2 separate regions of the Homo sapiens genome follow, and region 1 is linked to region 2. Evidence: fine-mapped expression QTL. Tissue or cell type: whole blood. Region 2 holds a variant in brackets; the other region holds the start of a gene. All regions are shown on one strand. Distances are between the middles of the regions. Region 1 holds the start of NAB1 (NGFI-A binding protein 1). Region 2 overlaps NAB1 (NGFI-A binding protein 1).

Region 1 (16,666 bases), 42 kb before region 2:
TCCATTTCACAAATAATGTTGTAATAAAAATGTATAAACTTAGCATAATATCTTAGAAGTGAATTTGTTGGCTGAAATCATATGGACATGTTGCAACTCTTGGTTCGACTTGCCAAACTACTGTTCTAAAGGTTGTTTATTTTTTTTACCAGCAATGATGAGCCCCTAACCTCTGCAACACTGTGATTATTTGGAACAGTTTATTTAAGGAATATAATTTATAGTTGGAAAAAACCCTTATTCTGCCACTATGAGAAACTTATAGTAAGGAATGAAAATACAATAATAGATAGAAAACTTTAAAGTTTTTGACTACCACATATTATTGCCAGTCCTGGGTAAGCTGAGTCATGATGTATAAGTCCAGGTACACGACAATATAATTCAAACTGTAAAGATGTAACTTTGCAGTTATATGCAAACGGAACTATGTTTATCTGTATTTCAGTAGTTTAAAAGTCTCTCATTGTAGGATATATGCATTGTCCTTTCAAAGTATCCGCTCCTAGAAGGCAGTGTTGAGTAATTTGTTGTGGTAATTTGTTGTGACAATTCGCCAACTCATCAATATTAACACATTCAATTTTTTTTTTTTTTTTTTTTTTTTTTTTTTTTTTTTTTTTTTTTTAGCTAGATGGGTGATATGGCAACTCAGGATTCTACCTGAATCAGCATAGTAAAGTATTTGGTGTGCTGGGGTAGTTTTTGAACCCATTCTGCTTTTCTTTCCTTTTCCTGACACTTACCTCTTGCAATCCAAGCGAAGAGAGAAGACTGGCTGCTGTTTCTCTGCCCCTTTTCCCTGCAGATCTGTCCCAACTACTCCATCCCAACACTCCCATCTGTCCCACGTCAAGAGGCTGGTTTAGAGGAGTTTATGTGAGGATGATCTCTTCTTTGCCCCCTCTGCCTTTTCTTTCCATTTTTTTTAGGGGAGCCCTGTACTTGGTACTTTTTCTTTGGCTTTTCACTTCTCCCAAAATAGTTATATCTACTTTAGTTACTTGTCATAAGTACAGACACATCTTCTGTAATCTCCATCCTCTTTCCCCACTTCCTTCCAATTCTTGCCCATTTGCTTCAAGAAGGGCTCTCTTCCTTAACATGCTCTCTTCCTATTTCCTTGCTCCTTTCATGAAAAAGCCAACATCTTGGCTGACAAGTCACACACCTTTGTCAAGGAAACAAACAAAATCCTCCATCCACCCTCATGATGGAGGGTACTCCAGCTGCTGGGTCCTTTGGCTGCAGTGTAGACCTAGAGGAAGAGAGAAGCCCAGAGACTGAGCTGGGAGAGTGGGCACAGACTTGACATTCATCTCAGCAAACAGGGTGGAGAAGGGTAAAGCCAAAGCTGGGACTGTGAGGAACAGGGTGGCCAAGAATGCAGTGTGCAGTGGAAGACGGTTTGAATACATTCCAGAGATGGGGAGCAGAGCACTTTAACCTACTCTCCACCCTGGCTTGTGTTGTTAACAGACAATTATTAATGGCCAGGAATGAGTGGACCGTAGCCAGTGTGGCTGACACCTAAAACAGTGTTACAGATCAGTTAACTATACAAGTCCTGCACAGTGGATGCTGGGAGAAAAGGGAAGGAGTGGGAAGAGAAGATAGAGTTGCGGAGTTTTAACCACTGTTGCCAAAGATAGGGGATAGAAGAGAAAGAAAAACAAGGCTCTAATCCTTAAAAAATTTCCCGAAATTCTCTTAAGAAAGTCTTTTCAAAAGTTTCCATTTACATTTCTTCTGTCTTAAACACAAATTTTAACCACAATTACTATTCAGTCAATTAAATGTTTGGTTGTACTTACTGCCTAATATACTTTTCTGCTCTTTCTATAAGCAATGTGTAGTATAAATTTGCTTATCTGTAGAAGTCAATTGGATTAGATGATTTCTAGGATCCCACCTAATCCCCCCAAAGTCTGTAACACTTGTATTTTCACTTGTATTTTATAAGCACTGGTAGCTCATCCTGGGAACCTAACCATCTCGGGTTTTTTTTTTGTTGTTGTTGTTGTTTTATTCTTACAACAGAGATTGCATTATAAGTTCAAAATAACCAACTTATAAAGAAATAAGCAATTGGAAACTAAACTAGTTGTATGATGAATTTCTGCAAGGTATTTGAATATATTTTGAATATACAAAAGAGGATGAACTAGGTAAACTTTATAATCCTTTATACCTTAAAATTCTATAGTATCTTGTAATAAAATACAATGGATAAAGGTTTGCTTATTTTTCAGAAGAGCAGCTACTTTTAAAGTCGTGGCTCTTGAAATTATGAGTTATTATATATTCCTATTAACTTGTCTTTAAGAAACTTGTTTATAATCTCTATATATTTAAAAATACTCAAATTTCCATGCATTTAAAAGTTTATTTAGTCTACAATACACTTCCAAAGCTTTGAATTTCATATCGCAAAATAAGGGAAATTTTAATTATATTTCTGGTAATATGAATATTCTACATGACTCAGTTAATTGTAGGGCTACCACCACACAGAGTGGAAAATTTGTTAAGTATAGAATTGTTCTGAGGCAATAATAGACGAGAATTATATTATACCTTAGATCTTGTAGGTCATAAGCCATAATGTTATTCTTCCTCTCCTCTAAGAACATTTTAAATCTATTCTTTTGTTTGGAATTACTGAAGCATTTTAAAGTAAGAAATCTTTCCGAAAATAATAAATTAATGCTCTTTTAGTGAAATTTTCATTCAAATGTCAAAATCACTACCAACTTCTTACATTTTTTTTTTTTCACTGAAAACTTTTTTTTAGTTTCACAAAGTGGAAATGGTTAAGGTTTTTTTTTTTTTTTTTTTTTTGGGTCAAAAGAATCCCTTATTTTTGCAAATGCTAAAATAATGCACTAATCATTGAGCAGTTTTAATAACAATTTCTTAAAACCCCTTTTAAACATATATTCACTGAATTCAAGAGAAGTATAACACATAGTTGCTCCTTCCAAGGGGGCTTACTGTATACTTAGGATGAACATAATTAAGTAACTAAAGATGCATAAATAACTATAAGCCTTCCATGTGGTACCAAAGAGAAGTGGAATGGGAGTTAGGGAAAGCAGAAGCTACTGAGGGAAGTGGAGCTCACAGTGATCTTCAAGGAAGTTAAACTGGAGTTTTAAAGATGGGAGAAACACTTGTGTCAGTGTTTCTGAAACCTCCAGCACTGACTTGGCTGCTTAGAGCTATCTGTTTAATGGTCCAGACATGGGCTGTGGGACAGAGATCTTGGCCTCAAAGCCTGGCTCTCCCATGTTACCTAAACAGGTAATTTTAGTACCCCATATTTCAGTTTCCTCAGTTCTACCAGAGAATGAAGTGAATAATAGTGCATACTTTATAGCGCTGTTGCGAGGATCAGATGAATTAATACTGATAAAGTGCTACCAGCACTTATTAGGTACTCGATACATGTTAGTTATTATTTTCTTGCACCACTAAAATAGCATTTATCCTTGGGAGGTGAGCTTCAGCCCAGGAGTTCGAGACCAGTCTGGCCAACATGGTGAAATCCTGTTTCTATAAAAAATAGAAAAATTAGCCGGGCATGGTGGCACGCCTATAGTTTCAGCTGCTTAGTAGACTGAGGTGGGAAGATGACTGGAGCCTGGGAGGTTGAGGCTGCAGTGAAAGCCATGATTGTGCCACTGTACTCCAGCCTGGGTGACAGAGTGAGACCCTGTCTCAAAAACAAAAACAACAAAAAAGAGAGTTTACTTAATAGTCCTCATTTTAAAATTAAGGGTCTTTGCTCAAGGAAATGTATTTAAAAGGTATTTTGAGATCGTTATTCTAAATGCATAATGAATCTCATTTGCCTCAATGGAAGATAACCATAAAAACAAATACAAGGAAAACAGTGCTATTAAATTCTAGCTATATACTGAGGCCTGCCAAGGCTCTGAGCTGAAGCCTGTTTCCTCATTGTAAAAAAAAAACAAAAAACAGAATTCAGCAAGTATTAGAAGGATTACAGACATACTGGCACCAATTTAAATTTCCTCCTTCGAAGGACTGAAAGAATTGAAAAGGGAATAGCTTGTTCAGTATGTGGTTTACTGCTATTTAATGCCAACGTGCATCTTCCATCTCGAATCATCTCAGCATGCTTCTGTACTTTGACAGAGCCATCAGAAGACAATGTGAAGGAGCAGTGTTCATTTACCATTGACTGGTCTTGTGTTCAAAGGTGTGTCATATATACTGACTGTATATTGTCAGTGGCATACATTATATTCTATTTTCCATGAATTACAACTTCCATTCAGAAGCACAAAAAAAATTATTCTCTTTCTCTAATTTTTAAACCTGAGAGCAGCCATAAAAAAGAACAGGTTCATGTCTTTCGTGGGAACGTGGATGGAGCTGGAGGCTGTTGTTATCCTTAGCAAACTAACACAGGAACAGAAAATCAAATACCTCATGCTCTCACTTACAAGTGGGAGCTAAATGATAAGAACTCATGGACACGAAGAAGGAAACAACAGACAGCGCGGTCTACTTGAGGGTGAGGGGTGGGAGGACGGAGAGAGGCAGAAAAGACAACTATTGGGTAGTGGGCTTAATACCTGGGTTATGAATTAATCTGTACAATGAACCCCAGTGACACAAGTTTACCTATGTAACAAACCACATGTGCCCCAGAACCTAAAATAAAAGTTAAAAAAAACACACACACACAACTTGAGAGAGGAAATCTGGTTTTCTGAGAGGGGAAATAAACCTGGTGATTTGGCTGTATACTGTGACACACTCTACAACACGGATTAAAATTATGAACACGCCTGTAAAATAAGCTTCTCCCAAATCTACTCCTAACAGGTAAAAACAAAAACTAAGTCAAGAAGGCTTTCAAATTTTTTAAAAAGTGTTTTCAAAATTTAAAACCATACAAGTGATATTTATTTAAGACATCAGAAGTAGCTCTGTCTTGCCCTTACTTTTATATATAAGGAATAAGCCTGGGATGATATTTGCAAGAGATAGAGTTAAGAATAAACACATGAATAATAAATAAAAAAACAGAATTTGATATATTTCTCATACCACTTTCCAAATGGTGTTAAAAATTCAGAATCTGGTGTATTTATTAACCCTTTGTAATTTATTTAAAAATAAATTTTGTGCCTAAAAATCTAATATGAATTACTTTAGGAACATTCTAAAATTACTTCACAATTTACACACTGCTTCAAAACATATTCTAACTCTTAATATTTTATTGAAAATGTTATATATTTAATCAGAAGTAGGCATCACATATTTTAGACACTTCTATTAGGAAATACAATTCATACTAATAACATCTACAAAATACAAAATTCTGCTAGTTCATATTTTCCATTTCATTTATTCAGCAAATATTTATTAAGTGACTAGTATGCGTCAGCCAATGTTCTAGCCACTGAATATACAGCAGTGAATAAAAAATTCTGCCTCTTGGAAATTACACTCATGTCCTTTAGGCTCTTAATGAAATGTAACATGAAATGTGATTTTCCATGTATAAGAAAATTATTTTTATTTTACTATTTGCATTCGACGAAGTATTACAAAAATAATATAGTCTCATTCCTTAGTAGTTTTTATATTCATCTTTTAGAGTGCATGAAAAGACAATCAAAACTATAAACAGAGACAAAACATTTTCCTTTGTCTTTTAGACTTCCTTCTGTTCTCCTTATTTTCACTGTTTTATAGCAAAGCCCTGCGGGCAGGGAACCATCCATGACTTACTTGTCTTTGTGTTCCAAGCATCCAGCCCTAAACCTGGCACATTCTTGGTGCTCAACAAGCTGTACTGAATAAATGAATAATTTCAATATACAGGTATTTATAATAAAATCACACCAGGAGAAACCAAAACTATTGCATGGACGTTTAACAAAAGATATCCAAAGTGGTCTGAATGGCAACTATTTGTGTTAGCACATTCTTACACCTGTCTGGGATGCCTCCAAGAACACTCTAAAGCCTTGAAACTGTTTGATCTCTTCCAGAGGGCCTTCAGAGGATAATCAGACACCATAATTGTTACCTTCCAGGATGGAATGTGAATCTCTTTGCTTTCCTCTAACAAATCCTCAGGGCGTGGGAGTGGGAGAAGACTGTGTGTGTGCTGGAGTCGGGAGGAGGTATTAGGGATGGCATGAGTGACAAAACCTGGTAAGGTGGAAAAAAAGAATCCATCGTCTGACTTGACTCAGATACAGGCGAATGCTTCAGTTCTTTTTGAGCTACCATATTGACTACAGTGTTGTCATACAGACATACAGAATTGGATGCTTAAAAGCTTAAAATTTTATCTTTCCTTCATTTTCCTTCCTCCCACCACTTCCCCCAGCACCACAGGGCATTTAAGGCAAAGTAAAGTGGGCCAAAAATGCCATTCTTAATGTGGGAAGAATACACTATCTAAATGTGCCCAGAAAACAAACAAGGATAGATTCCACTGTTTAACTGTAGAAACCAGATACAACTCAGAAGAAAAAGTATCTGTCCTGACACATTTCCTTTTCAGCATCATGTTCAGCCAGACACAGACAAGCTTGGGAAGAGGATTTAATGTTGTTTCTTCCAACTCTGGAAACAATTCCACTAGAAGGCTCAATAGTTCAGGTAAGACCACTCATTTCGTGACTCATGAATCCGTGATTATACATCTTTACGGAAAAAAGTTCTTTTTTTCTAGCTTTCAGAACCAAGAGTGTTTGCAAAACATCAAGATTCCATAGAGGAATTAGAAGAGAATTTTGCAGATTTCGTTGCCTGAACATTACCTTCCCCACCAACCAAGAAATTGCCTAAATCGTCTTTAACATGACCATCTAACTTTCTCTTTAGTAGAACAGGATCCACAGCTGCAAAAACCGTGACAATTAGGGAGACTAAGAGAAACTTCCAGCAGTGATTTCTGCAGTTAAAGAATTTCAGGAATTAAGCAGACTTATTCATTTGAAATATCAACTCAACTACTCCAGACAAAACCTGTCACTAATACTGAAGAAAAAGATTTAACTTTAATTATATGTATTCCATTGCGGCATTACTCATTTCTATAACATGATTTCGCAAAAAGAAAAAAAAAGGTTCTGTACTTTATTAAAGTCTTTTTCTTTCAATATCATCATCATCATCCTATCCCTTGCTGCAACATAAAGATGTGGTTTGAAGAATTTCCCATCTCAAAGAATGCCTTGTATCCCCATCAGCGAAGTAGGCACACTCTGGGAGGCCAGCCAGGGTGTGGGAATGGCCTCCTATAAAACTTGATTTTTATGTGTATGTTAAAATGGGATTCTACCTGTCTTTGCAGTAGTTTTATATTAATGAATGCTCTCTAATCTTCAAGAACACAATGCTAAAATTCTTTAATTTTTCCACTTTTTGCAAAGAATTGAAATATAGATTTAAAAAACAGACTTCCAAAATTTTTTTGGCAATAGCTTAAGTACATTTTTCTTCTTCTTCTTTTTTTTTTTTTTTTTTTTTGAGACTGAGTTTCGCTCTTGTTGCCCAAGCTGGAGTGCAATGGCACGATCTTGGCTCACTGCAACCTCCGCCTCCCGGGTTCAAGCTATTCTCCCGCCTCAGCCTCCCAAGCAGCTGGGATGTCAGGCATGCGCCACCACGCCCGGCTAATTTTGTATTTTTTGTAGAGACGGGATTTCACCACGTTAGCCAGGCTGGTGTCCAACTCCGGACCTCAGGTGATCCGCCCGCCTCGGCCTCCCACAGTGCTGGCATTACAGGCGTGAGCCCTGGCCAGCCTAAGTACATTTTTGAAGGTGCTTTAATACTTTGGTTAGCAAAGTTTATGCAAACCAAAAAATTCTATATTGTGCCTTGGGAACTCTAATTTAGCACACACCAGCACTATACTAGCGCCGTAGTTTTTCTACACCATGGACACAAAAAACATTAAACAGTAAAATAAAAGGCAGATTTTCAGGAGGTTAAAAAGGTTGGAATTAAATTACCCGGCCAGCGCGACAGTTGTCAAAGCTGTACTTCGGACTCCCTGGTTCCATTCCTCCCTCCTCCTCCCGTCCCAACGCCAGAGCGGAGGTGGGGAGGGGGCAAGATGGGCGAGGCAGAGATGCTCTCCCAGCCGCCGGTTCTTCCAGCGCCGCGCACCTGCCGCCCCTTCCTCCATGCGGTCGCTGCAGCCTTCCCGCCGGACGCCTCGCCCCCCCGGGCAGGGGCGCACCTGGACCACCTGCCTCCCCGCCTCTGCCCCGAGCCTGCGGGGGCCAGGGGAGCCCGGCGCGCTGTTGTTTTTTTTTTTTTTTTTTTTTTAAAGTCAGCCTCCTAGAGGATGTTGGATTTGGCGGGTGTGCTCTTTGAAATACTATATCGGGAACCTCACACATAATTTTTTTTTTTTAATTGCAAACCTTCCCAGTTCACTCCGCAGCTGGAGAGCAGGCCGGAGGCGGCGTTCCCCACCCGTCTCCCTCTTTGTCGTCCCCTCCCCGCGCCCGGAGCGGGACTCGCGGGAGCCGCCCACTCCCGGCGCCCACTTGGTTCCTCCCAGCTGCCGTGTGAATGGGCCGTCCTCCGGATTCCGCGGAGGGGGCGGCGGGAAGGGGCCGAGCCCCGGGCCCAGCGGCCGCCCCCGCCCCCGCCCGGCGGCGGCCCACGCCGGGATCTGCGTCACTCGGCCGCGCGTGGGCGGGAGCCGGAGCGGCGAATGTAGCAAGAGCGGAATCTCCCAATGTGACAGCGCGGGGTGGGGGAGTGGAGGCGGCGGAGGCGGGCGGGGGAGGGGGAGGAGGGTGTAGCGCGCGCGGGGAAGGCAGGGGAGGGGAGGGCAAGGCGCGGCGGGGGAGGCGCTGCCGCCGCCGCCGCCGCCCGCGCGCCGCAGCCTGGAGGAGCCGCCGCCGCCGCCGCGGCCAAGCGAGCGCCGTCGGGGCGGGTGGGCGGGAAGAAGCGGCGGGCCCGAGGTGGGGGGGAGCAGAGAGAGCGCGCCCACCACCTTCCCTTCCCCCCTCGATGGGAGCGGGGGCGTCCCGGCTCCTGCAGCCGCCAGAGGAGGGAGAGCCGGGGGCCGTCGCTTCGGAGTTGGGGCTGAGCAGTCCTCGGGGAGAGCGCGCCAAGACCGCTGCAGCCGCTGGCTGAGTACGTACCGGAGCGGACGGTCGCCACTCCCGGTCCGCCAAGTGCGGGACACTTTCGCGGCTGAGCGGCCACGGGCGAACTTGGGGCGGCTGAGTCGCGGGGCCACGCGGGCACTTTGGGGGCGGTGTCCGGGGGAAGCGGGCTCCGCGCGGCCGCCGCCGGAAGGAGAGGGCGGCCCCGGGCTCGTGTGGGCGATTCCCGGAGACATTCTGTGTGCCAGGGCGGCGGGGAGCGCGGCCCTGACTCGTGCATTTTCCCTCCGAGAAAGGTTGGGGTGCCGAGTCCGTTTTGCTAACGGGGCTGGGGGCGTCACACGGCGCTCTGGGGGTGTGCGATGTGGGTTGTGCGCGCCGGCCCCAGAGTTTTGCAGCCACCTTCGTCAGGGCAGTCTTTTTGTTTGTTTACTTTATAAAAGTGCTGCACTTACCGTCTCGATTTTCTTCTTGGGTATCTTCCCTTTCCGAATGTAGTTTTCTTTTTAAAAGCGGAAGGAGAGTTTTACATGGAAGTGGCTTACAGAAACTTGGCGCTGAGGTGCAGGGAAGCCAGAAACTCTTTGTGTCTCTAAGGCCGATGAGGAATTTGGAAACACATGTGGGACATACAAGCGTTGGATATAGAGGTGTGTGTGTGTGACCTTATCATGGAGAAACACTGAAAATACTATCAAATCTTTGTGGTCTGCAAACTCAGAGCTTCCAAAGCTTGAGATAGGAAATGACACTTCTGTTAAGCCTGAATGTTGCAGGATCTCGGGGAAAGGGATAGTTGAGATGGAATATACATTTGTCGATTCTGCAGACCAAGCTTTGCAGCGAGTGATCGGGAGGAATCGTAGACTTGCATGTACTTACACCTCGCTCCCTGAGATTCGGGAGGCACGGAAAATTTTGGGATGGCTGTTAATTTAAAATTTCATCTGAAAGAGTCGATTTGGAGTAACTTGTCACTACCAGTTGGTTTGCCAGTGACGTGTCTGCCAACTCAAAGAGTGCAAAGATCAGAAGCTGAAAGAGGAATTCTCAGATCTTGTTTAAAAATATTTTGGCAGTTTTAATAGATAATATGAGATTGCATAGGAACAGAGGAGCCGAATTTAAAATAGATTAGTCACGTAGGAAATGCTTAGCTGTTGTAAAAGTGTTCACGCAATGACTTACCTTCCTAGGTTTTCACTTTTTTGAAAATTTTTCCCTGAACAACATACTGAATTATGATATTTCATAATTTGTGTGTGGGTTATAAGAAGTATGAGGAGAGAGGATGCATAGGATTTGCTTTTTCTGTTTTGGGTGGAGATTGAGCTTTTCCTGAAGACCTGAAAGAGCTGCTTCTGATCTAATCTGAGTGCCAGTAAAAGTGGCTCTTAGATGAAAGGCTTTTTCTTCTCCATATTGGTGTCATTTAAGACATACAATATTATCTTTAAGTTTAAAAGATTATATTTTTTCATCGGTATTAACATACAAATAAGGGTTTTCTTGAGTCTTTGTAGATGACTGGCTAGGTCAGCCTTTTTTATCCCTGATTTGGGTATTAGATATTGGAACATTAGGTCTTGAAAGAAAATTTCAAGGAACTTCTGGAAGAAGCTTTCTTGTTTCAATTTTATTATTTTTACCATTTTGCACTAAAGTTAATATGCCATTTCGAGATTAAAAATGTTTTTTTCCCGACTCTGATGGTCTCTTGTTACTTGTGAAGGTATCAATAATAATGTAATAATGACAACATTGAGGAACTGTAGATTTTTATTTTATTCTGCCTGCTAATTATGGATGTAATTCAAATGACAGAAATTCTTAGGATTACTATGGTTGTTACAAGGACATTTAGTAAGCTTATATGTCTAGTAAATAACTTGATCTATCTAAAAAATACTTTATCTCATCTTATTTCAAAATTATTCAGTTGAGTAATCTCTTTTTTGTAAGTGGCAAATAACATCCACTGTCGTATGAGAAAGTTAATAGATGTTTATTCTCCTTGTTAGAGAAACACTGAAAGCATTAGGTATTTTCATCACGGTATAGCTAAGAACCTATTGGTTTATTAAAGATTTTGGGGGTTTGCACTGTGGATGCTTCTTTGAAAGAAGAAATTATAAACTGGGGGACATCTTTGATGAATTTGTTAATGAACTTTAAATATTTAAAGTTCAGGTTGGATGAAAACAGAAGTATGTCAGTTTCTAAAGAAAATATAGACATGGGGTCTCGCTGTGTTGCCCAGGTTGGCCTCAAACTCCTGGGGCCAAGGGATTATCCCACCTTAGCCTCCGAAGTTATGTCAGGTTTCATTGGCCTAAGACTTAGGACTCATTTATTCCATTATAACAAGCCTGGAGCTGTTTTTTGTGAGTGCTATTTATGTACATTTTTGGAAATGAAATCTTTGTAAAATTTACCTTTAAATGCAAAGCTGTGTTTTGGATGGAAGTGACCATTTTATAATATGTTTTGAACAGTTTAAGATCATGCTAATGTATAATCAACCCGTCTATGCATATTTCATTGTGGAATTTGCTAAACATATTATAGCATAAATAATACCCACTTGAGCATAATAGAAGATTGCTAGACCCTTTGCTTTGGATTTATTTTTATCTTACCTGCTTCTTTTATCCTTTTCAACAGTAGAATGAAGAATGGTACAATTGTTATATTAAGTGCAAATTCCCTTTCTGATCTGACATGTTCAATAACTCATACAACAGTAGAATATACTCCTTAAACTTAATAATGGAGCAAGTGGGAAATTTGACAAGTTGATGCTTGGAAAAAATAGTAATCCTCATCTTGTGAGAATTCACACAGCTAAAACATGCCATTAAGCTTTCAAAGAGTTTGTCATTTCTCAATACATTGTATTTAGGGGGTGACCCATTAATTTGCATGGTATATTAATTTAATGATTTTTACAGAGAAACTTCTGAAAAGGTGAAAAAAACTTATAAATATTGCCTGCATACTCTGTGCTCAGTGGGTACTTAATGTTTGTTGAATGACTTGATGGTTGGTTGGTTAAGAATTTCCAGCCATTGTACGAAATGCTAGTATTTGCCTATTGTTACTATAGTTAAATGAATAAATACATAGTTATCATTTAGCAAAATCTGGTTTAGTTTTTTCTAATTTTGGCAAGTAAATTTAACCTCACACTGAATATTTTTATTAAAATTTTAAGGTGTCTCTAAAATTTTTTTCCAGCTTCATTCATTCCATTCAGAATTTAGAAACGAATCAATAAGAGACAACATTTTAAGTTTCCCAAATTACAGTCAATTCATTAGAAGGTATATATTTAATTCATAGCTAAGATCCAGAAGTATCTTGACTTATATGGTACACCACTGAATGCTTACTAATATGTGTGCCTAGGTAAATCACTGGAAGCTTGAAACACATACATGGGAGTTAGTACCTAGGCCAACCCTACAATCTTAAGTAACCCATAAAGTGTAGCTGAACTATATTTAATCATTTTAGCTTGAGTTCTGGGTCTAGGATGAGAATAAAAGCGAAAATAATTAATTGCATAGAGCAAGCTTGTCCAACCCGAGGCCTGTGGTTGCATGCAGCCCAGGAGGGCTTTGAATACGGCCCAACACAAATGCATAAACTTTCTTATCAGCTATCGTTAGTGTATTTTTTGTGTGGCCCAAGACAATTCTTCTTCCAGTGTGGCTCAGGGAAGCCAAAAGATTGGACACCCCTGACACAGAGGCTCATCCTTCCCTAAATCAAATTCTTGTTTGTTATAAACCTTTTCTGTTTCAGCCTCTCGTGTACCCATTTCACCCTTCTCTCAGGCCCCTGTACCTTCAAGCTATACTCTCCTGAACTTGGAATACTTCAGAGGCTCTAAGTGTAGTCTTTCTGTCCTCAGATTTCCTATTTTCATTGTCCCCATTTCCCATCTCAATCTTTCATTAATGTGCATCAGATCTTGTCTAGATGTTAAGAAGAAAACAATCTGATGGAACTAATTTACCTTTATCTGTAAATGACTCATGAGCTCTTAACTCTTCCCAAGGTTTTTCACATTTTTTGTAAGTCTGTAAGAGGTTGCTATTAACTCAGATAATTTTAAAGTAAAAATTGCAGGCTGTGTTGGGGGAAGGAATTTCTAGTCTTATGCATAAATAAGTCAGGCCTTACTAGGATTTTGCCCGTGGTTTCTTCCCACTCCTGGAAGTGTGTTCATATGTGTATTGCTATATATGTTTGTGTATGTGTATCTAATAATGATTCCCATAGCATGGAGGGGAGAAGATGCAAGAATAGTGATTATAAATCCCTTTGAGTGTATGGATCATTAATGAGATAGATATTTGATGATAACTTACACCGTGTTTAATTTATAGGAACAGAGAAGAAAAAGACCTAGGATCTCATGACTGAACTTGAATTCTTAAAAGGCAGGTGTTGGGGCCGGACTCGTTGCATGATGTATAACACTAACCACTTGTAGTTCCTGTATTGGCAGGAACTTTTGCTTTCTTGGGAGAATAGCCATGTTATAGGAGTGCACCGTATAGCTTTTTAAGAAAGAAGAAGTATTAAGGATGAGAGAATGAAAAGGATTGTAGGTAAAGTAACAGGATGCCCTGTTATTGGATTGGCAATTCATTGAGATACTGGTTTACACAGAAGGCCTCCCCTTTGGAATATGAAAGGTTGCTGATCAGATTCTGACTCAGACATTGGGTTTCATTGCACAGCAACCTTTCCAGAGATGTTATTCATCATTGAAACTTTGCTAGGAATAAATGGGGATAAAAGAGTAATGAAACCTAATTCCTACCCTTGGGGTGCTTATAACCTAACAGTGACTTGTTCTGCAGAGCCAGGCAGGTTGCCTTCCTTGTGCCATGACTCCTTCACAGCTGCACAGCATTTACCACATTGTTTAAGTCTCTGCTTCTTGTCTCTCCTTGCTCTTAACTGACTCTCCATGAAGGACTGTCTTTCCTCTGTTCCCCAGAACTGGCTTAGTTGTTGGTGTTATTTGAATAAGTTCAAAATGTAAGAGAGACAAAGTGTTGCGGGGTTCAGAGAAGGGAGATGACAGCTGCAGCCAGGGGTAGTGGGAAAGACATTTTGGGAAAGGCTGTGAAGGTTGGAGGGAGAGAGGATGCCTGGCACAGGGGCAGGGAAGTGGAAGGCATATTTGAGGAATGCCTAGTGTATCTGCTTGGCACAAGTATATGGGCATGTTAAGGAACAGAGAGAAGGCTGGAAAGATAGGCTTGGGTCTGGGATGCCTATATGAGTAGTTTGGATTTCTTTCTCTGCACTGGTGGAGAAGTTCGCAAATCTGTAAACTTGGCATTGCAGTGTGGGATCTATTGAAGGTGAAGGAGCTTTTTTCAAAATTGGGGCAAGAAGCAATGAACACTAGAATTTGGTGCTTTTGAGGCAGAGAAAGAAGTGGTGGTGTAGCCTAAGGACATGTAGATTTGAGGAAGAAAGAAGAAAAAGCAAAAATGGAATCCAAACTTACTTAAATCCGGGAAACTGAAAGACCAATGGTGCAACTGAAAGAACTAAGAGAGTTGGAAAGAGTAGACTTGGGAATCTGGAAGAAGGGCAGAAAATGAGAGAATGTACTTGATTTTGGACACATCAAATTTGAGGTTTTGACAATGCCCAGGTGGAATGCCAAATTACAGTTCAGAAGAACAGTTTGGGCTGATGGTTCTGAACTTTTCAGGTGTGAGGATAGCTTTTTAAATAAAAACTTGCAAATATTTATGACTACTTTTAGTATTTGTTTTTTGAGAATACATGTAAAGACAAAACAAAAATTCAGCTATACTGTTAAGTGAGTTTTACTGAATAACAGAAGTGTCTATTTACCTTCATTTGCAAAGTAGACGTGTGTGAGAGGCATCTTTTTCACTCAGCAGTTGGTGCTTTGTGTGTATTTGGATTTGAGAACACTTGGAGTGACTCCATGGCTCTTGTCCAAGCTACAAATACAGATTTGGAGGTCATCTGCCTATAGTGATAATTAAAGCCTGGGAATGGGTGAGATCATCAAAAGAAAATTATGGACACACAATAGAAAAGAGATGTAATATAAAAATTTGGAGAATTCTTAGAATATAATAGGTGAAAGAAGGAAAAACAAATAATATAGCATTACCAAAGTAAGGTGAAGAGCATCTCAAGGAGTGATACCATGCAGCAGACAGATTAATGAGAGAGAGGCCCAGAGTTTTGATAGAATGGTGAGCCCAGAAAACAAGCTGGCCTGAGTCAGGTTTGAAGGAATGGTTCTTCTTTTCTCTAGTGACAATTAAAGCCCTCTGTCCTATCAAAAAATCCTCACATCCCAGCTTGGAGACTGTCAGGGAAATTTTGTTTTCCATAGCGAAACAGGAGTTGACCGGTAGTTTTGTGGGCCAGACTAGCTCCCTGCTTCACTTAGCACAGTTGGAATCTGGCAGGTGACTGATGCTACCCTGTAAGGAGCCAAAGTGAATTTTAAAAAAAGTTTTGGAACAAATGATTACCGTTTAAAAGATCAGTGAATAACAACAACAAATGGTCTTAAATTAATGCATTGTTTAATTCCTCTTCCCCTAACATCATTGGGATTCTTTTTATAGGACTGAGCAGGGGGAGGAACATTTAAGCTGATGGAAGTGGAAGTGGAAGTTGCTGTACATTGGCAGCAAGGCCTCCGAGTTAGCTTTTGAATGCAGTTAACTGGTTTCTCTTAACTGTGGAATTCATTGAAAAGTCAGACTCCGAGTGGTCGTTCCAGGATATCTTGAAAAGCCCAGGTAACAGTAGTTTTCAGCTGAGTGGATTTACAATACTCTAAGCTACCTGTATATAACGTGTTAAGGACCCATTTTATATTTACTTCAGATTGGAGAGAGGCAGGTAGAAGCTTTCTTTTGACTTATTTGACCTTCATGTTGAATCATTAATGGTTATAGATTTTATGAAAACAGAAAATCTTGTAAAAGTTTTCTTTCAAATCACATCAAGTTCATGTATGAAGGGGTGGGTGTTTAAATTATCACAGCCGGCTTTGGAAGGAAACTGAAACATTCTCTTAAAGCAAAAGCTTAGGAGGAGAACTCCTTTTCCAGTAGTAAGTGTGGGCCTCTAGAAAGCCTCCAGGGACCGAATTGGTTACTTAGTTATGTTGCATCTGTTATCTTGGCTTTGCAAATGTAGACTTGGTCCTATCAGTCTTTATGGAGATATTATATTCATAACTACTTTCTTACCCATGCAGAGGGCTTTCTCTTAAGAACTAGGGGGTTTCATTTTTTTTTTAAGTGGGTAAAGATGAGAAAGGATAAAACTTGAAAATTATTTTCTAAAATCATTGCCTTATCTCAGAAGAATAAAATATAAGCTTGAGTCTTTTAGTTCTTAAGTTTCTCTTTTGTATTTGTCTAACATATATTTTTTCTTATTGCTCATAAAAAGATTTAAAAGTATTTTTCCAGATTTCCTCATGTAATCTCTGCTCTATTCCATAATGT
Region 2 (16,666 bases):
AACAAAATTAATTTCAGATAGGTCAGAGGGTTAAATTTAAAAAACAAATCAAACTTTTAGAAAAATTAGAGGGTAGATTTAAGTACTGAACCAAATTTCTGAAGCAGAATTTCTCTAAACTTTATAGCAACAGTTGAAATCACAAAATAAAAGTATGTACAACTATAGCATATAAAACAGGCATATAAAAATTAAATGATTTTTGAGTATCAAAAGTATAGATAAATTGGCATAAATTAAGAAAACAAGAATTCTTAGTGCTGACAAGGAAATTGTCATGTATTGCTTGTGGTATGATAAACTAGTAAAGGCCCTCTATAGGTTTAGCGAAAGTACATAAGGCACAAAAATATCATCTCTGCAGTAATTCTGCTTCTGGGAATCTTTTGTAGTAGATAATCTAAGCTATCGAAAATGCTATCTCCATGAAAATATTTTTGCAGTGTTTTTCATAAAACCAAAAATTAGGAAAAGAATAAAAAATGTCCAATGCGAGGATAGTGGCTAATCAAACCCCCCACTAGGTTAAATGTTTTTTATGTGTTTTGTTTTTGTTTTTGTTTTTTTGAGACAGAATCTCACTTTATCACCCTTTGTCACCCAGGCTGGAGTGCAGTGGTGCAGTCTCGGCTCACTGCAACCTCCGCCTCCTGGGTTCAAGCGATTCTCATGCTTCAGCCTCCCAAGTAGCTGCCCAGCCTCCCTAGTAGCTGTGATTTCTGGCGTGTGCTACCACTCCCAGCTAATTTTTTTTTTTTTTTTTTTTTTTTTTTTAGTAGAGATGGGGCTTTACCATATTGGACAGGCTGGTCTCGAACTCCTGACCTCAGGTGATCTGCCCACCTTGGCCTCCCAAAGTGCTGGGATTACAGGCGTGAGCCACTGCACCCAGCCTAGGTGAAATGTTATATAACCGTTATTATCAATGATCATAAAGCCTTCTTTCCAGTGTAAAACAATAGGAATGATGACATTTTTCATCTTATTTATGTTTCTACTGAGGTTACAGCTGTAGAAAATAATGTATGTTTCATAAAAGGCTGAAATGAAATATTTTATAACCATTAAAATCTTAATCATGATTATTCAGGTAGTGAGATTAAGAGTTTGCTTTATTTTCAAGTTTTTGATAATATTTTATTATTTACAAACTCTAAATATAAAGGACTTCTTATTTGACCCACAGGATGGGTTTCCAGATTTCCAGGATTCTGTGCAAACACTCTTCCAGCAGGCTAGAGCTAAGAGTGAAGAACTTGCAGCTCTTAGTTCACAGGTAACATAAACTCCCAGTTATTACTCCATGATAGTATCTGAAGGTTAAAAAATAAATGACTACTTCAACTAGCTTCAGTTTTAAGTATCTGAGGCCTGACTTTTTATTTCCGTTTGTTTTTTAAAACGTCATCTGAGCCACAGCTGTATCAACATGAGAGCAATAACAACTTGGTTTGATTCAGTTTATGAACGGAATCTGATATGGTGCTACTTATTTATTCTTGTAGTTTTGTAGGAAGTGAGACAGATTCTCTGCTCAAGAAAACTTAAACAGTTTGATAATCAGGAAAACCAGCCATGTTGACCATGGCTGTGTGTAATGCAACTCTGAGATAAAATAATACTAGTTCTCAATAAAATATTAATAGTCAACATTGTAATTATTGTTAAATCTTTTAAATTCATATTTATTGAAAAACTATTAAATGAATATGTGGCTTCAGGTGCTTTTGCCATTAAGTTATTTAATTTTGTCTGTATACTGAAATTAAAATTTTAAAATGCTTTCTGCAAACATCATCTTTTAGAAAGCACTGTAAACTTTTATTCCTATTGAACAGCTTCTTTGTAATAAGTTGCTTTTGATCAAATTTAGTACTGCTAAGTTTTGTTTTTTTCATGTTAGGATGAAAAATACATTTTTTACCTCAGATATGCTTATTTAAATTTTGTCAATTTAGTAACAAGTTCAAATGAAATGAAGTTGTAGTTACTTTTGATTTGGTTTATATGCACTCAGAAAAATAGTGTGTTTATCATGTTTATTCTGTGAATTAATATATTTTACCTACTGATTTTTACATTGTGAATCAGGGCATTTTGTAACCAATTTTATATAGCAGCTTTCTTGTCCTACTCTCTTATATAGCATGGTAGTGATTCATATCTGTGCATTTTGACTATTATCTCCTTGGCAAAATACCACAAATACACTGCTCTGAATATCACATATAAGTAATTTAGAGCAGTGCATTGAAAAGGAACTTATAAAACACATACAGAGATAAATTTATATGTCAGTTGACTAATTGTATATTTAAAATATGCCTTTTTATGATTGGTTGGGAAATACTGCAGTTTCATTTCATGATGAAGGTAAAGATGCTTATTGGCACTGATGTTTTTCTGCATAATTTACATTGTTTAATTTTAGTGGGAAGTGTATTTGTCTTGTTCTTCTAGACAGCCGTTTTACACCTTTTCTCCCCCAAACATATTGTCATCATATCAGAGTCTGTGTACTGCCAGATCCTAAAATAAAAATGCCAAGATTTCGCCCCAAGTGTTAGAAGTAGTTTATAGCAGATGTTGCTGTTGCTTTTAGATTTCTGTTTTAAAAAATCCTTTAAAGGACTTAGTACCTTGGAAAACAAAGCTAAGGTTATGTTGCTTTTGAGCTGACATGGAATTCTCTTGAAAGAATTGAGAAGAAAGCTTTTATCTTTTGTACAATATCCAGCCTTTTATGTTTTAACATGATGATATAGACATCTATGCATATTTATGGAATTTGTATACCACATGAAGTGTGAACTAATTTTAATGAATACTAAATATATTTGCTGGAGTCTGAAATTGGCATCTTTAAACCATTAAAAAATCTAGAATGTTTCAGTTACTGATTTGATTTTTGCTTTACTTACTAGCAGCCTGAAAAGGTGATGGCAAAGCAGATGGAGTTCCTTTGCAACCAAGCTGGCTATGAGAGACTGCAGCATGCCGAGAGGAGGTTGTCTGCAGGGCTTTACAGGCAGAGCTCAGAAGAGCACAGTCCTAACGGCTTGACTTCCGATAACTCAGATGGACAAGGTACATCTTTAGAATATCCTATGCCTTTAGGGCCACTATGTGCACTTCAAAGAGAAACAGAAGACAGTGGCTGATTTTTAAATTATGATATTTTGTAGAGATTATTTTACAGGTTCTCTTATCAAAATTATTTTTTGAATTCTTCATTTTTCTAAAAAGATAATTTATCCTGCAAATTTTAATTTGTAAATTTTTTAATCTTTAAGCAGTTGGCACCTGAGATTGACATGTATTATTTTGTAGGGGTTGGTGGGAATGTGAGATGTCAACAGTACAGATTATTTTCCCCGAAGAAGCAGATTCCGGGAGAGATGTTTATCCTTTTTAAATGACCAAAACTTCATATTTTTTTAGACTTCAAAAACAAGTTTGTGAAATTTACAGCATTTGGTTCTTAAAAGAATATGGTGACTGCATCTAAAGTGTTATGACAGAGTACAGCTCAGGTTTAGAAAGCCATGTGATTCGTGAGTGTTTTTACCATTCTAAAAAGTACTTCATTCTTTTCACATCCTCACATAAAGAAAATCCCAAGTCATTGTTATTCACCCAACCAACAGGCATTTTATTTTTTTAGCAATTCCTATGTGCCAGGCACTCTCCTAGGCACTGAAGATGCAGCAGGGAACAAATCCCTGTTTACCTGGAGCTTACATGTAGTGGAGGGAGATGTACAGGTTATATATCCTCTAGTTTCAAATAGTAATAAGTGTTTGAAGAAAAAAAATAATTTTATAGTGCCTCCTTTTTATATATTATTGTTATACTTTTCTAGAGAGTGGTTATTATTGTAAAAAAATAAAAGGATTCCTAGGTAAGGATACCATCTTAACAAGGATTCTCCAGCCATGGACTGAAATATTACATGTGTCAACACATCAGAGTACTGGAAGAGAAGAAAGTTCTTCCTTTTAAAAATATTACAGGAACCTCTGAGTTGAGGTCTTGTTTAACTTCTCCAATTATCCTTAACAGTTAAGAAGCAAAGGCAATTATTAAAGATTTGGTGACTCTAATTTGTGACACCAGGATAATTCAGTGTGGGGTGACAATTTGCTAATGTGATGGATTTCAGTACATGACAACATGATTGGGTGTATAATTTTTTCCCATATTTGTGCTAAATCTGTTTTTTCACGGATTTTGCTGTAGTTTTTTTTTTTTAATCTTTAATTGGCTTGAAGCCTTCTGTGTCTTTCTAGTACTTGTTATTATATGATTAATGACATGCCTTGGTAAAATGGTTGTTCTAGTAAGAAAATGCCTTATAGAGGAGATGTATTATATGCCAAAACTGGAATGCTCACAGGAATTCTCAGTCTTTTGTTTAGCTCTTAAAAATATCCTGGCAGAATTGTAAACCTTGGGACTGGCATGAAATGACTTGCCATTTTCCTCTTAAATTATTATTTAAAATGTTTTTTCCAAGTCTTATTTAAATTCTTCAGTGCTCGTTGACTCTCCTCACTTTTTTCCTAAGGAGTGTTCAGGCAAAATTTATTTTTAAGAAAAACCATGGTATGTTTTTAATATTATGCATATTTCTTTTTTCTTTTCATTAGGAGAAAGACCTTTGAATCTCCGAATGCCTAATTTACAGAACAGACAACCCCATCATTTTGTGGTGGATGGGGAGCTGAGCAGACTTTACCCCAGTGAGGCAAAGTCCCACTCATCAGGTGAGAACGTGCTATATGATGAGAGGGTAACACTTGAATAAAAGCATCTTTAAATTCTGTTCTATTTCCTCCCCCATCAAAAAAAAAAAAAAAAAAAAAAAAGTCATTACTGACAGTGTTCCTACAGGTTGAGTATCCCTAACTGGAAAATTCGAAATGCTTCAGGATCCAAAATGTTTTGAGTGTCAGAATGACACTCAAAGGAAACCCGCATTAGAACATTTCAGATTTGGGATGCTGAACCTTTGGTGTAATGCAAATAGTCCAAAATCTGAAAAAGCTCAAAATCCATAGCACTTCCTGGTCCCAGGCATTTTGGATAAGGGATGCTCAATTGTCAGTTTTTCTCCCCTTGGAAGTGGTAGATTGCCATAACACTGGCTGCTCTCACTAGTCTTTTTGCAAACTTCATATTCCGAACAATGACAGGGAAAACTCATGAAAGTTGAGATTACTTTGATTAGCCATTATATGAATGGTGATGTTTATATGAAAGTTTAATAATAAATAGCTGGTTTGAGTTGTGTTACTACCTTTTTTGGCAATAACATAATATGAAATTGATGGACTACATGTTTGCTTTGACAGTGAGAAAACCTTGTGTATCAAAATCTAGACTTTTCATGCAGATGTATTTTGGAGGTGATACTCATATTTCAGAAGTAAACTGAATTCCATAAAAGGATGAGCAGCTCCTTATCATAGTTAGATATTTACATATTTTTATCCAAGTAAAGTGAGTTAGACCTAGTTAAAGCATTAGAGACCAGCACAATTTGAAAGAATCTGTTATCATTCAAGTCTTTGAGTTAAAGTAACTTTAGGAGTCACTTAATCAACGTCACTGATTTTATAGATGAGGTAGCTAAAGCCAAATAAATAGCTCCAAATTTGCATTGTAAGTCAGCGGGAAATGTAGTTTTACAAGCATTAGGATTAAACCTGACTTTACATCTGTTATCTAGATAGAATGAATTATGTATTTACTAGAAAAAAAGTGTTATCAAGAGCATTTATGTCTTTCAATTTTAGATCATACTCTTGGTAGCAGATGCTAAAAAGACGAGTTCTAAATAATGTTCTGGTACTGTGACTTTAAAGCATGCTATTGCATACTTGATTGTAGCCATTTTAATAATGTCAAAGGGAGGTTGGGAAATTGAAATTATCCTAAAAAGATGACATCCTGGTCTCATGTTTTCCATAACACAAAAAAAGTGATCTTTAAAGTTTTTTCAAAAACGAACAAAAAACGACTTTTTACCAATTTATATTCCTTAGAAGACTCTATGTAACAGGAATACTCCAATTACATTGATCATGTGTCTCATCATGGGGCATATTTACATATTTCATGGAGATATATTACATAGAGATATAATTGATCTAGGTTTTTAGGTAGAACCGAATGAAGAAATGCCTGAAAAAGCGTCTTTCTTTCTCTTTTTCTTTCTTTCTTCCTTTCCTTTCTTTCCTTCCTTTCTTTCCTTTCTTTTCTTTCCTTTCTTTCTTTTCTTTTCTTCCTTTCTTTTCTTTTTTTGAGATGGAGTCTCGCTTTCTCGCCCAGGCTGGAGTGCAGTGGCTCAGTCTCGGCTCACTCCAGCTCCTCCTCCCGGGTTTACGCCATTCTCCTGCCTCAGCCTCCCGAGTAGCTAGGACTACAAGTGCCCGCCACTGCACCTGGCTAATTTTTTGTATTTTTAGTAGAGACGGGGTTTTACCGTGGTCTCAATCTCCTGACCTTGTGATCCGCCCGCCTCGGCCCCACAAAGTGCTGGGATTACAGGTGTGAGCCACTGTGCCCGGCCACCTTATTCTTTATTTTTAACTGAATAGGAATAATACAGGTTTCATACAGTGCAAGCCTGGGTCCAGATCTTAGCACCGATACTTGACTGAGTGACCCTGACTGAGTTACTTAAGTACTCGTCCTTCAGTTGCTTCATTGGTAAAAGAGAAGTAATTTCTACCTCGTAGGGTAGTTAGGAGGATTAAACAAGATAGTGTACCTGCATCGTACACTATCTATTCCAGCCAGCAGGAATTCAATAAATAGTAGCTACTTTTTTTTACTACTCTTACGCGGAACTTAAAATCCCCTTCTGTTTAGATAGAGAGGATTCATAAATTGAGCTATTTAATTTCAGATAAGCTATTAGTATTGATTACTTTCTAGAATCCAAGGTGTGAGTGTATGTGATGTGGATGTTTGCATGTATATGTGTGTGTACATATCTCCCAGTATTTGTACTTTACATAAAGGTTACATTTGATTGTTATTCTGTAGTGTTTGTGTATGGTTGAAATAACTGTACACATAGAACTCCATGGAATGATTTCTCATGAAAATAGTGTTCATTATTTTATCCCTATTTCCCCTACCTTAATATGTCATTGTCGGAAGAACTTTAAAAAATAGTTCCAAGGTTATGAAGATATTTTTCAGTCTGATTCCTTCATTGATGGTAA[A/G]TATTTTAACCAGTAACAGTTATTTATGAATAATCAGCTTCCTTTTATATATTTATCATGTTGGATCAAGCATTAAATAAAAATTAATATATTCTATATGCTAAATGTTTTATGTGCATTTCATTATTTAACTTTCGTGCCACTTTATGTAGATACTATTCCTATTTTATAAATGAAGACATTAAGGCTTAGAGAGGTGTATAACTTGCCCAGAGATGTATACATCTATACATATATGTATACTATATGTATACATCTAGTAATTGGCAGAGTTGAAATTTAAATCCAGAATCCAAGCTCTTAACAGCTCTATGAACAAAAATTTTGCATGGAATTACAGAATCATGAATAGTTGATACTATTTGATATGGAGTTTGGGGGTTTGTTTTAAAACTTTGTTTGATTTTTGTAGTCCATTGATTAAAATATCAACTCACTTTGTTTCCATTTTTATGTAGAGAGCCTTGGGATTTTAAAAGACTACCCTCATTCAGCTTTTACCTTAGAAAAGAAAGTCATCAAAACAGAGCCTGAAGATTCAAGATAGCTGTGATTTCTCTCACCGTTCTCTGGAAATGGCATCAGATTTAAGGATAATACTCCATCATAGAAATAAGCCTTAATAACCAGTGTTGCCTCATTCAGCTCAAACAGATTTCATAGCCAAAGCAAAAGGACTGGTACGGTAGTCTGTGGAAACCAGGAAGATAAAACAACAGCCACAAAAGAGAAAATCAAGAGTGTTGCAATCTATAACAGTAATATTGATTCATTCACATTCCTGTGTTAAGTCATTTTATATGGAAAGGCTTACAAATCAATATTGTAAGCATTCATTATTTAAGAATGTACAATGTATTTGTGTAATTTATAGAAGTAAAATCTAGATGTTGAGACCTGTTTGGTCTAATAGATGTGGATACAGTTTATTTTACTTGAAATTTTGTTGTCTACTTTGTGTGTTTAACGTAAATATATGTCAGAGTTTAGAATCTGCCTGCAGTTGTGAAAAAGAAAGCTTAAGTGATGCAGTTATTGGCAAGATTGCAATGATTATGGAAAAATAGAAAGCGAATACTCAGTTTAAGCCAAGGAAAATATTGTGGATTTAATATTTGATAAAACTGATTTTGTTTAACAGGAAATTTTTAGCATTCAGTCATATAACATCTGGTTATCAATGCACGTTTACACAATAAATACTTGAGTGGAGGAAAGTTAAAAAGATGAGCAATAGAGTAGAAAATATATCTTAAACTAGTTGACCTAGATTGTATTAATAGCTACTTAAGATGTTTCAAAGATAGGAAGCTATTGCTTGGACAGAGAACTTGAAATAAGTGGACCCATGTATAAAAGCTTTGACTTAAACATTGATATTTCAGAATGTGTTAAATAGATTAAGACACAGTAAGTTAACCCTACATGTTATAAAGATGGCGACTGTTAACAAAGGCTGTAACAGATTAAGTACTATTTTATATCCAGAAAGTCTTCTCTATGTAGAGAAGTCAGAGAGACTAGATGCTTTCACTAGGGAATGTCTTCCCACCCAGCCATCACAAATGTGGACAATCACTGCATCCACATCTGTAGGCATATTTCTATGGAAGTTTAATTGACAGCTATATTCATTATTTATTTTACAATTTCATTTTTCTACACCTTTGAGATTTATGAATGCAGTTTTTTCTTAAAATTTATTTTAACTTGACAGTATGTTTTTAGTTCCCCCAATTTAATTAATGGACCATGTGCATATATATGGGAGTGTGCTTACATGTTAATAATTTACTTGCATACTTATGAGAATTTCACATTGGAATTCATAATGGTAAAACAACATACATCTGCCAATATACGTTTTTTCTGTTGGTTTAAGAGAAGATAACTGACAGCTTTACCTACTTCCTACAGATGCATCTAAACCCAGATATTACTGAGAAGAGTGTATTGACTCTGAGTGTAAGAGAGTATGTGTTTTTTTGTTTTTAGTTCTGCTCTAGATCATAATTGTAAAAAATATTAAGTCATAATCTGTTACACTAAAATTTGTCAGCCAAATGTTAGATGAAATGTCTGCACTGTAGTCTCAGATCACTGTCACGTATATAAATTGCTTCTTCATTTTAATTTGTAGAAGTACTTTACAGTAGGAAACGCCAGTAAACAACTTTTATACTGTTAAAAGGCTTTTTTCCCCTTCCTAAATGTTTTAATTGTACCATAGTGTTTTGCTCACTGAAGAAGCTTCTTATGGACCTTGCAACTTTGTTGCTAGCTTGAGGTTGATTATTGTGGTTGTATTGTTCACTGTGTGTAGAAATAGTATGAGTACGATTTCAATAGACTGTTCAGTTTTTAATATTAGCCATAGCACTGGTTAGTATATCTCAGTAGTTTCATGAAACGTTTCCTGTATTCTAATCTATTTTGAAACATTTTGTTTTTTTTTAATTGTGTCTTACAGTCAAGTTTGTAGATTTTCATAAGCCACAATTTTAAAAGATGCAGTAATCTTCCAACTTCCAATATTTATCCATTCGTTGTGGACCCACAGATTGCATCTTTAAATTCATAATAAGTTTCCTTAACTATCTTATGTTTCTAGTCTTTCAAGCTTAGTGATAAGGTGGAAGCACAAGAAAAATTTCAGTAGAATACAGTTTTTATTTTGTAAACACTAATGTATTAAACTTGCTATACATTAAAGCAAATAATATATATTTTTATTTGAATTGTATATGTGAATTGGAAGTTATAATTAGTTGATTTTTTCATTTTGTTAGAGGTATTTTCACTGAACAAGGTCAATTGGTTACCTCAGTATTACAGCCAATATAGTCCAAGGGACCATTTCTCCCCGAGTCTCTTACACTTTATTGTGCGATGTCCACGTTTTTGTGACTCTTCAAGCTGTTGGTGAGGTGGGACGAATGCACTTGCTTCCTGTGGCAATAAAGATTTTCTGTGCCTCACACATTTATGTTTATAGCATTTTCTACATAGAAGTTTTCCAGTGACTAATATTAACCCACTCTACCTCGCTTATCTGCTTATTTAAGCTGGGTTTCAGTATTAAGGGACAAGAACTTACGTCTTAGGTTGGGACTAAATATTGTCAGCTACCGTCATTTCTAAAAAATGATTTGGTAAACAGGTTCTCAGTAGACTCTTGTCTGGCAGAGAGAGGTCAATTTATATTCTCATTTATGTAGAAGTTTATGAAGACGTTTTTAAAACTTCACCATTTCTAAATATTAATAAAAGGAACATTAGGATTTAACATCTATAATACATATATGTATAATATTAATGTGATTTGGGTTCAGTGTTATGGGTTAATTATATGAAATTGAGCTAACCTGTAGTAAAGAACCAGGAAGAACCTTTCAGCAAGTATTGATGAGTTCTATAGATTAATGAAGATCATCAGTGTGCCAAGCACTGTGCTAGGTGCCAGGGAAGAGGTAAAGGTCACAAACGAAATATATGATCCTTGCCCAAAACCTAGCTGCGTAGGAACTAATACCACTCACATAAAAATTTCAGTGCCTTACATATTGGGATGAGGAGCTGACATTTAAGTGCATTCTGTATTAGGCAGACATTGTGGTAGCAGGCACTTCACAGGTGAGAGAAAGCACATTCAGTGAGTGAGATTCAGAAGAGATCGGTCAGGACTGAAATCAACATTCAGAGGTGGAGTTTGATAAAAAGCCATAGTGGCAGTACATTTCACTTTGAGGCTGCTTTTTTGTTGTTGTTTTTGTTGTTGTTGTTGTTAAATTACTGCAATTTTATTTTGAAACTGCATGGCAGTTAGATCTGCTTGCCTGGGTAATCATTCCTTTGACGATCCACTAAATCTGTCAAAAGGCAGCGGGGAAAGGTGCTTTTCATCTGTCCTTAATTAGTGAAACCACTTGGGTAAAAGCTTTAGGATTTGGTAATTATGAGACTACTAGCACCTAGTGTACCTTTACAACTATAGTTGACACTATTTAAGACTTAAAAGCTAAATAAGTATGCAGGGAATTTCCTAACTTATGGTCTGTCCACTTGGGTCTCAAAATAGTTAAGTATTATTAACACAATGCCCATTTTGCTTGTGACTTAATGTACTACATCAAGTCTTCAAAAGAAAACCAAGGTATTAACCAACCTGATGAAGCCAGAAGGTCTGCCTCTTTTAGGAAATCAATTCAATTAGTAAGTAGCTGAAGTTAGAATTGAACAAACCTTGTATGTTTGTAACAGCTTGAATGACCAAATACAGTAGTTGCTCTTTTACTAAAAGCCACCATATGGTCCAGCTGTGCATGGGTGGTGTTTCAGGGAATGCAAGCTTCTTATCTGTGGGTGTCCTCATAAATGAAATTTGTAAGTAGGCCTCCAAAGTTAATAAGAGAATGATCCAGTGCCTGACATTTTTATTGTAAATACAATTTAATATCAAAAATCTTACTGTTAACTATGTCCATAGTGATCCTGTAAGACAATTTTTTATTTCATGTAGAAGTGATCAAAAGCAAAATGCTGGAGCTAGGATTTTTCTTACTTTCTGAGTATGCAACAGTTAAACCTTTAAAACATCTTTGGGAGGCTGAGGCGGGCAGATCACGAGGTCAGGAGGTCGAGACCATCCTGGCTAACACGGTGAAACCCCATCTCTACTAAAAAAAAAAAAATAGAAAAAAATTAGCCAGGCATGGTGGCGGGCGCCCGTAGTCCCAACTACACGGGAGGGTGAGGCAGGAGAATGGCGTGAAGTCGGGAGGCGGAGCTTGGAGTGAGCCGAGATCATGCCACTGCACTCCAGCCTGGGCGACAGTGCAAAACTCCGTCTCAAAAAAAAAAATCTTTGGCATCTGTTTCTGCTGACCTATGACATTTTTTTTTTTGTGATCACCTCAAAGGTGTTTTTTTTGTGCAGAAAAGCCTAATCAGAAATTTATTTTTTAAGTTCATAATCAACTTATTAGAATGCAAAAATGTATTGTGCTTAAGGTTAAGTTCAGCTTACAAATCTTTACTTTCTAAGTTTAGCAAATCGTAATCACTTTTAAGGGAACTGTGAACTGGTTCTGTTTACAAAGTTGGTTAATTAAGCCTTACTCTTTTATAGTCTTCCCATCTGTTAGGTCACACAATTCTTAAGTGTTAAAACGATGTCCTGTTAAATTCTAGGTCTCCCAGCTGTGTTTGACTATTTGGTCACAATTTCCAAATTGTTATTCTGACTGCTAAGTGATTTACTTTCAAAGTATTGCTCCAATAATGTTAAAGGTCTGGCTTCTACCACTTCATCTTAAAGGAATTTTTAATGAGTTTTTTTTTTTTTTAGCAATTGGGGTAAAACCCTCAAGGAACATCAGACTCACATAAAATAGTAATCTTAGTTCTTATTTCAACATCCATATGAAATCCTTAGTTACCATTATTTTTCCATTTTATTCTTTTAATTTTAAAATATTTGACAAAAAGATATTGAAGTATACAGTGTGATGGTTTTTTATACCAGTACATTGTATACTGATTACCACAATCAAGACACTGAAGTGGGAAATTACCTCTCCTAATTTTTGTTGACTTTATATTTAGTGCACTTTAGTCAATTTAGTTATTAAATATCTTAAGAATAACTTTCAGTAAAATGTTTAAAAAATTTCCTCTGCACAGAGCATTATGCTACATTTATGTAAATCGAGAAACCTACCTAAATACAGTTTTAAGTTTTAGAAGTTTCTATTGAAATGTTTGCTTTATTATACAATTCTATTTAAGTTTTCCATTCTAACTTATTAAAAGAATCAGCTTCTTCAGTCTCTGAGAAGTAGTGATAGTTCAATGTTGACATCAAAACATAATGTTGCAAAATGTAGATTAAGTACATCACATTGGTTCAAGATGGTAGTGCCACACATGTTAAAATCATGAACCCAATAATTTTTCTCACTTACTAAGAGTGACAAATTTTGTGAATTTCCTGTTAGTCCAAACAATTTGGTAATCAACCTAGCCTAGTTTTGCTGTGGGTGAGCACTAGTGATGGTATAAATTAGAATGTGCTTCATATGTACACATTCTGAAACCTTATGAGTCATCTTTGCATTAGAAGTTTGCACCTCATAAATTTGTTCCAAGTGCCATGTTCAACACCCACACATAATCCCAAGCAAGCATGGCCATTCTCTCGTAACTGTCACAGACACCCTATGTTGGCAGGTCACTTAGGCTGCAGTATGTAGGAAGCTAGTTAAGTAGTGCATACGTAGGTGGCATCTTACTGGTAACTGTTTCAGCAGAGACATTTTATAATTTTCTGAGACTACCTATCGTCTTCGACTGTGAACTGTTAAACCAAACGTCTGTGGTCTAGCACCCACCATACCCTGCTATTATCCTTCCCAAAAGACAAAGTGATTTTTTTTGGTAGCATGTTCTTACACTGTAGGCTCTTCAAAGTCTCATTGTTTTCATTATTTTCCCCCAAAAAGTATGTATTTTCCATCCCCAGATCCCTGACAACATAATGTAAGCATGTTTTTCATCAGCAGTTAAAATGAACTAGGTCATTCATTTTCTTTTTGAATTCAACCAATGTCTCCATCATCAGAAAATGCTCATACATTGACTTTTATGAGTTTCTTTTGCATATATTGGCTAACTTTCAAATTGGAGCACATCTTTCTGATTTTTATTGGTGAGAAGGCAACAGAAAAATTTGTATAGTGAGATAGGGACATCGCAGATACAGCCAGGTACTTGATTCCAATTCTTAGGATAATAAAAGGCAATTTCCACTTAAAAAATTAACATTAAAGGGGAAATTAATTAGAGGTTATGTAATTTATTCAAAGAGAGAACAATTTTAATATATTTTAATATTTAAAAGTGAGAGGAGAGGATTCCATTTCTCAAGACTTTTCCATTTCATGTCACAGGTATGTGACAGCTGGCTTATAAGGGAAGTCACTTTTTCTATGATTTCTTATTTAAAAGACAGGATCTAGTTCTGCCTTGCAAAGCAAAAGATTTAAAACTCAGGCTTATATTCTTAATCTGGTAGGTAGTGCCATATAAAAAATCCTCCATTTCCTAGCACTGGGCCAACTACTTTACATGTAATCCTCTGCAACTCCAGGAGGTACTTATCACCCCCATTTTGCAGATGAGAAAACAGACGTCTCAAGAGATAATAGTTATTCCACAACTAGTAGTAGGAACTTAAGCCAGTCACTTGTTCATGAGCACCCGATCCTGTCAAATATCCTTTGAACTGAGTGGCCTGTACTATGTGTAGACATTTTACATGGTAAACACTTTATAGATAAAGCTTGAATACACACATGTGGAAAGAACTAGGCCATATGTGAGTACTGATCAGCTGGTTGTTAGTGGTGTCTAGCCTGCAGCAGAGGCTTCCCAAAGAAAGTAAACATCAAGCCTTTCTGAAGGCAGCTACTGAAGCGGAGAAGTGAAAGGGCATTGCAGGGCTTTGGAATTAGCATGTCTGAAAGGCCCAGGTTGGGAAGCAGAAAAGCTACATTCCAATACCACTGGAAAATGTAATGGACTAAAGCAGAAAATTCAAATAAAAGTTTAATTAGATATAAAACATCTAGAAAAGAGTGCCTACTAAATGAAATCCTTTGAAACTCATACAAAGTTCTCATTCAATCTGGGAAGCAATTAGAAGTTGTTTTGTTTGTTTTTGTTTTTTGAGACAGGGTATTGTTCTCTTGCCCAGGCTCGAGTGCAGTGGTGCAATCTTGGCTTGCTGTAACCTCTGCCTCCTGGGCCCAAGCAATCCTCTCACCTCAGCCTCCTGAATAGCTGGGACTGCAGGTGTGCGCTACCATGCTCAGCTAATATTTTAAGGTTTATAAGCTGTTCCAAGACGCCCCCAAAGGGCTTGATTCTGGCTATGTTATGTGGAGGCAGTGACTAGGAAGCTGTTGCGGTTGTTCACCCTTCAGGTGGTCAAACTTGAGCAGTGACAATAAAGACCAAGGGGAACAAGAGTGAAGGATATGCAATTATTCAATTATTCATTCATTTAGCAAGCATTTGTTAAGCCACCTGCTTAAAAATGCCCAGGCATAGTGTTAGGAACTGCCCTTTAGGGACACAAATTAGCTAGGTTTCAAACCATGGTTTAACTTAATTTGCATCTCCAAATTTCACTCACAAATTATTTATTAATTACAAAGGAGACAAGTCAATTTTACAATAGTGAACTCTAGACTATTCTCCCTTCTTGCGCTAAGTGGAAAATTCTAGAAATAACACCTTTATTTAAAGGTTGCAAGGCTATCTTTATCATTAGTTGTGACCTAATTAATCCGTTTCACAAACCAACAAATTTGGCACTATTATCCTCATCTTATAAAGGAGAAACTGCACCAAGAAATTTAGGAACTCATTGATACCTAGAGAAGAAATCAGTTTGCAGGTGATAAGTATTATTTTTGCTCTGGTTTCTGTCTGTAATGAGAAGGAAAAATCAGATTGTGCATTTTAAAAATATAGGTTTTCTCCAGCTCCTTGATGTGGGCTAGTGTGAGGGCCCTAATAAGACAGTTGTGCAGGGACTGAGGAAGCAGCAGCACAGCAGCATAGCTACTGATGACTTGAGAGAAATTCAAAATTAAATGTAAGTATTATATTTTACCTGTGTCTTAAATTGAGGGTTTTTTGGTTTTGTTTTGTTTTGTTTTGTTTTGTTTTTGCGACAGGGTCTCACTTGTCACCCAGGCTGAAGAGTGCAGTGGTGTAACCATGGCTCATTGTGACCCCAACCTCAACAGCTGGGACTGCAGGTGCTCATGACACCATGTCTGGATAATTTTTTGAATTTTCTTTAGAGATGGAATCTCACTATGTTGCCCAGACTGGCCTTGAACTCCTGGGCTCAAGCAATCCTCCCACCTTGACCTCCCAAAGTGCTGGGATTACAGTTGGGAGCCATTGTGCCTGGCCATTAGGCACAATGGCTCCCAACTGTCTTTTTTAAAGATGGGGAAAATGTTTTTAAAAACTCAAGTTTCCTAAACACAACAAAAAATTATCCTCATTAACATTTTTAGGCACATCTAAGGACAAGGTGACCATAAGAACAAATTAAAATATGATTTTTGAGCCTGAAAGAGTTGTAATCTAAAACAGACAACCATTATCCTGAACAAATACAAAGAATGTAATAAAGCATTATAAACTGCCCACTACCCAGACTCATTCTCTGCTCCCACTCCAGGACATGAATGCATACCGGGAAATCAGTACCACTAGGGGCCACCCGGGAGACTGCCTTCCACAATGAGGGAGACAATGAATTCTATTTGGGACCTGTGGAGTTTGAGAGGCCTTCCGTTTATTTCAGTGGAGCTACTTAGGATTTACTTGGAGACAAAAGTCTGGAGATCAGG

Evidence for each region. PIP is the estimated chance that this variant, and not a neighbour inherited with it, causes the effect.
Region 1: it holds the start of NAB1, and the variant in region 2 is fine-mapped to the expression of NAB1 in whole blood (TOPMed, PIP above 0.99).

What each region holds. Positions count from the first base shown.
Region 1 is chr2:190,640,205-190,656,870 of GRCh38, forward strand. NAB1 (NGFI-A binding protein 1) reads left to right here and starts at 8,879. Exons shown (of 10, transcript NM_005966.4): 1 at 8,879-9,156; 2 at 9,642-9,778; 3 at 15,773-15,949. It also overlaps a transcript of NEMP2 not described here. RefSeq lists silencers at 8,140-8,189, 8,200-8,249, 8,330-8,379, 8,410-8,779, 8,790-9,389.
Region 2 is chr2:190,682,552-190,699,217 of GRCh38, forward strand. NAB1 (NGFI-A binding protein 1) reads left to right here. Exons shown (of 10, transcript NM_005966.4): 7 at 1,187-1,276; 8 at 2,925-3,087; 9 at 4,650-4,766; 10 at 7,694-10,215. The coding sequence ends at 7,782. Among named protein-coding and RNA genes, the nearest start is that of NAB1, 42 kb to the left of the region's middle. The variant A/G (reference allele first, on the strand shown) is at 7,236.